Regions from separate parts of the Homo sapiens genome. Here region 1 is linked to region 2. The links come from fine-mapping of genetic effects on gene expression. A gene starts in region 2. The other region holds a variant in brackets. All regions are shown on one strand. Distances are from middle to middle.

What was found. PIP is the estimated chance that this variant, and not a neighbour inherited with it, causes the effect. A credible set is the group of variants that fine-mapping cannot tell apart.
Region 1: its variant is the best candidate, but not a certain one, in a credible set for the expression of CYP2R1 in monocytes (TOPMed, PIP 0.65).

The regions. Positions count from the first base shown.
Region 1 is chr11:14,538,450-14,541,476 of GRCh38, forward strand. It overlaps a transcript of PSMA1 not described here. Among named protein-coding and RNA genes, the nearest start is that of PSMA1, 20 kb to the left of the region's middle. The variant A/G (reference allele first, on the strand shown) is at 1,524.
Region 2 is chr11:14,891,000-14,893,499 of GRCh38, forward strand. CYP2R1 (cytochrome P450 family 2 subfamily R member 1) reads right to left here and starts at 1,232. Exons shown (of 5, transcript NM_024514.5): 1 at 982-1,232. The coding sequence starts at 1,206. It also overlaps a transcript of PDE3B not described here. RefSeq lists a silencer at 740-979.

The DNA.
Region 1 (3,027 bases), 350 kb before region 2:
GAACCAAACCCTTCCTGCTGCCTTTTCAGCTGGTCTTGGATGACAGCCCCATGCTACGCCAGCTTCCATATCCCTTAACTCTTGAATGTCCAAGATTTTTAAGAAGAAGTGGGACTTCCCATGTGAATTTGGTTGAAAGGGTAAATCAAGTTTTATACTTGAAGTTTAGTTTATAAAATATTTATTCACATCACTACCACCAACCCCTTCACAGGCTTCCTCCCACAGTAGCTCAGTCAGCCAAGTGGCATCAGAGGGAGCACCGTTTGGAAGGGAGTGTGTGTGGGCAGCTTGCAGGTGAGGACAGGGCTGCCAAGGCAGACCATGCGGTCTGTCCTGTGCCTACACCCAGTACCTGACTTCTGCCTTTCCAGAGCATTTGTATACACACAGCAGTTCTGTTGTTTGGGGTGTGCGTAATTTCAAAAAGTACTTTTTAAAATAACTCATTGACAAGACTTACATTTAGCAAACAAGAATATGTAATGGCAGATATAAAATGACCATGCATGGATTTAAGTGGGAACTTCTCTGAAGTCGTTGGGACAGAAAAACAAATCTACTCCATGTTTTAAAAGTACCTTTGGAAATCTTACTAGTGGCAGCCATTGTTTTCTTATGGGTTCTCAAAGGCTTATTTGTCTGTGGGAATTTCAACAGAAGGTAATACACAGGCAAACTACACTTGAAGGCAACATTTCTCTCTGGCTTTCCTTTTCTACACAGAGAGATATTCTAACTGATTTGCAAGGGTGCTTCTCAGTTGGCCGGAATGAGATATTTTCAGATGAAAGCCTATGACTCTGTGTCACTTTCCCCCTTATTTTTGAATCTCATGTCTTAGTTCTGCAGTCACTGTTATTTTTAATTATTATTATTATGCCTGTTGCCAAGCTATTCCACTTTACACAGAGTTGATTAGAGACCTGACAAATCCAGGCCAACATAAAGTCCTGGCTTCCAGATCAGACTACGTGAACAAAGAAAAAAAAGAAATCTACCAAAGTGCCAGCTTTTAGAAAGCTCTTAAAGGAAAAAAAGGAAGAAAAAAATAATTTTAAAAACCAAAACAAACTAGAGTTATAAAGAGTGGAGCTTAAGAACAGGACCCACGGGCCGGGTGCGGTGGCTCACGCCTGTAATCCCAGCACTTTGGGAGGGCGAGACGGGCGGATCACGAAGTCAGGAGATGGAGACCATCCTGGCTAACATGGTGAAACCCCGTCTCTACTAAAAATACAAAAACAGAATTAGCCGGGCGTGGTGGCAGGCGCCTATAGTCCCAGCTACTCAGGAGGCTGAGGCAGGAGAATGGCGTGAACCTGGGAGGTGGAGCTTGCAGTGAGCCGAGATTGCGCCACTGCACTCCAGCCTGGGTGACAGAGCGAGACTCCGTCTCAAACAAACAAACAAAGAAAAAAAAAACAACAACAGGACCCACAGGAGGAAGATAAAGGATAAAAAAATCCTATATGGCTAAGATAAAAAGGAAACATATAAATGAGAGAATAAAAATAGACCTG[A/G]TATCACTATAGATTTGCAGCATTTAGCCTGTAGTGCTGCGTGACTACTCTAAGCAGCAGGAACCTCTCTCCACCACTAACATAAAAGGGGCACTCTGGCACAGGGTTTCCATTTGTGGCTTCAGAACTGAAATGTTTCCCTTGACCCTCTCTACCCACCCAGCTCTGTTCAGATCTTCACTCCCTTGTTTTCAGCTTCCCTACTTGCTCTCTGCATTTGCCTGGCCCACAAATGCACAAAGTTGCCTTCTGTGGGTGACCTTGTCTTTTTGCAACTAAGATGATGAAAACTGGAACTCTCCATCCAGCTACGTTGTCTCAGGCCACCCTGGGTGACACTCCTCCCAGTTGGATCCAGTCCTCAGGATTTTTCCCTCTGAAAAACACAGTGAACTAGACAGGCTTTTAGGAAACATTACGTCCTCAGGAGAGATACGATATTGCTTATGGTTCAGCGCACACTTCCAGAAAATAAACTGAGATCGCCTAAATGCAGAAAGATCAAAAAAGCCCTTCATTTCTGGAGGTAAATGTCTGTTTTTCAGTTCTACACATACTACCTTACTAAAAGCTGATACCTGATGGATTGCAATTGGGTTTTCACACAACAATAAAATACTACTCCTATCAGAAAGGAAATGTGAAAAAAAATTGTGAACGTAAAAAAGGAACATGTGGAGTTAAACATCAACTTTTCCTCTTAGAAAATCTGCAGAAAAGCCCAGTTAAAGAAGAAGATTGTTTTAGAATAAGTCATCTAATGCTGGCTTACTGTTCTTTTTAAAAAAGGTACACTTTTTGTGAAAAGAATTTTACTTCCCCTGTCATTTTGGGATGGGGGACAAAAACTTGGGAGTATCACTCCCATGTTCTAGTGTAAAAGAAAAAAAAGTTCCTGGTATGAAAAATGTTATAAAGTTAACACTTGGACACAGGAAGGGGAACATCACACACCAGGGCCTGTTGTGGGGTGGGGGGAGGAGGGAGGGATAGCATTCGGAGATATATCTAATGTAAATGACGAGTTAATGGGTGCAGTACACCAACATAGCACATGTATACATATGTAACAAACCTGCACGTTGTGAACATGTACCCTAGAACTTAAAGCATAATTTTTAAAAAAAGAAAAATGTTCTAAAGTTATATATAACAATAGTTTTCTCCCCTAATTAAAATGTTGTATTTTTCTACTTTTCCACATTAACATGAGAATATATAAAAGGCATCCTTGCATAAAACCCTTTGACCAGATTTCACAACTCTAGTCCTATGCTAATAAGAAGTCTTTATTTAGTTTCAGTCTTTCCAAATAAGCCTGTATGCTTCTGACGCAGCAAACACCAGTTTGGTCCTCTCTGTCCTCTGTCCCTTGACCCCCAGGCTCAGTCTATTCACCTAAGGTAAAACTAGACCCTATTTGTACAGAACATATTCGTCTTTGTGCAGGCGCACACAGAACTGGGGGAGCTCTGCTCTGGCCCAGGAAAGAGATAGAGATTGG
Region 2 (2,500 bases):
CTGCCAACTCCTTAAAAGGCTGTATCTGCCTTCTTCACCGCTAGCGTCAGGCCTGTAGTTGCATATAAATAAGTGTAATTCAAAACAAAACAGGTGAGCTCTGTCCCAGGACCCGTGGAAACTCCTGCCCCCTCCGGACGTCGGGACACCCACACACAAGCGGTGGTCGCCTTTTCCGCTGCCAGTCACAGGGCATTTCCGTGCTGCTTTCCCCTCCGCAGAATGAGGAGGAGCGAAGTACCGACCTCACCGGCTGGTTATGAGTTTTAAATGAGTCACCAAGTTGGCAGTGACAGTGGCACACAGAAGGCGCCTTTTAAGTATCTGCTAAGGTGCCGTTCCCAGCCAGTCAGAACGGCATTACCATCTGCGCTGTAGGACCCCCGCAGCGGATTTTAGTCATCAATTCATTCACGCGTTCACAATCGTTTCCCAGGGCCCGCTTCTCAGTCAGGGGCGTTCCCCTGCATTCTCCATTCTCACAGCAAACGCCTACACCAGTCGTTCGTCGACTGCAGACACCGAAGAACCTGCTATTAACCATCTAGAACTCAGAACGCCTTGATTTTCCGACAAGCCGCGTGCAGCTTCCACAGAGCTGCGAGGCCGACTCGCAAGACGCCCGCACCTGAGGGCATGCGTCCACCCTGGACCTGAAGTGGCGGCGCGGCTGGCGAGCCAAACGGCGCAGGCGCAGGAGCAAGAGCTCGAGCGGTAGCGGGAAAATCAGGACTGGATCGCCTCGGAGCCTCGGCCCGGAGTGGGTCACCGGCAGGGGCGGGGCTCCCCCTGCAAGGGGGCACGGCGTCGAGGACTTCTCCCTTCCAGACCCGGGAAGCGGGTGTCCCTCAAAGGGCAGCCGGCACACGGAGAGGTCCCGACTAGTCGGCCCAGGGGCGGCCATAAGTCCAACCAGGAAGGCCCTGGCCAGCCCGGGCCAGCCTGGCGGCCCTCCCTGCCCGGGGCCCGTCGGGGCTGTACCTCTCCGTACACCTGGCTCTGCTTTCTCATGTAGACATGGGGAAGCTCGGATGAGGCTGCCAGGGAATAGATGTTGCCGATAAATGGCAGCCCCGGCGGCCCCGGGGGGAAGCCCATCGGCCGCCTCTGCTTCAGCAGCTGGCGGACCCCTAGCGCGAAGAGCAGCAGGAAGAGCGCGCCGCCGAGCGCCGCCGCGCCCTCTTCAGCTCTCCAAAGCTTCCACATCGGCCCGAGCTGGAGGTGCGAACTCCACAGCAGCCCTGAGACCCAGGCACTCCCTCCAGCCCTGCCATACTCCCATTGGCAGGATACCCTCAGGTCCCGCCCTAGCTCCGTGGCCATTGGCTGACTGAGTGAGCGCTCAGGCCCCTTCGGGACAACTACCTTCTAGTTTTGCGCGGCTGAGAGTGGACTTTGCGGAGCGGGTGGCCGGTGCTACCCTTTGGAGGTGGCGCGGCTCTAGGCGGAGCAATGAGCCAGGAGTCCGTTTTCTAGAATGTTGACACAAGGGCATTGACGAGGTGTCAGGACGGCCTCACTCACTGGGCTAGGCGGATCCTGCCTCTCTGGGGCCAGACCTTTCTTAAAGTGTCTTTTTAAGTACCAGGTCTGCTTATTTCATTTCACACTAGGAAAACTGGAGAGATGATCAACACTGCAGTCTTTAGCTGAACCTGATACTTTTCAGAATTTCCAGTAGAAAATTGACCCATCAGTAGTAAAAGAAAGTAATTTTACTGTTTTGTCCTGTTTTACTATTTTTCTCCTGTTAATGTATTTTTGTGTGTGATCTTTTAATAATTGTGATGATTGAGCAGTTTATGTGATTAACTCAGTTTACCTATATTTGACCCCTCTCTGGTCTTTCCAAACTGATTACTTATTGGCAATCACGGGACTCTTGTCTGCACTTGTTCACGGAGAGTATTTACTATTCAAGATTTCTGCCTCCACTGCCTGGAATTAAGCAACTGATTTCATATTATTCTTGCTAATTGTTTTTATTCCTGTTTTCTATTGGGCAGTTCCTTGCAATACAGGACTTACTGGGTTTGGGACTCTTCTAACAGCTGCCCTCTAATTGTGATTTAGCAGTGGCATGAGTTTTATGGTCCTCATTAGCTTACGACTCATTCACACAACAAATATTTATTGAATGTCTACTATGTTCCCATGTCCTAAGCAATGGAGATACATAGGTGAATAAGAGCAACAAAGTCCTTTCTATAACTTACATTCTTATGAGAGGGAAGAGCAATGACATGGAAATACAATAATTTTCAATAATCAGAAGCAAACAAAAAGTGCGTTATAGAAAACGCCTGGTGGTTGGGGAGATACTTTAGCAGGCAAGGGCTGTCAAGGAAAGTCTTATTAGGAAGATGACATTGGAGCTGAGATCAACTGCTAAAGAAGTGTATTTGTTTCCTACTACTGTTGTAATAAATTACCACCAATCTGATGGCTTAAAACCACACAAATTTATTTTCTTACAATTCTTGAGGTGAGAAGTCCAAAA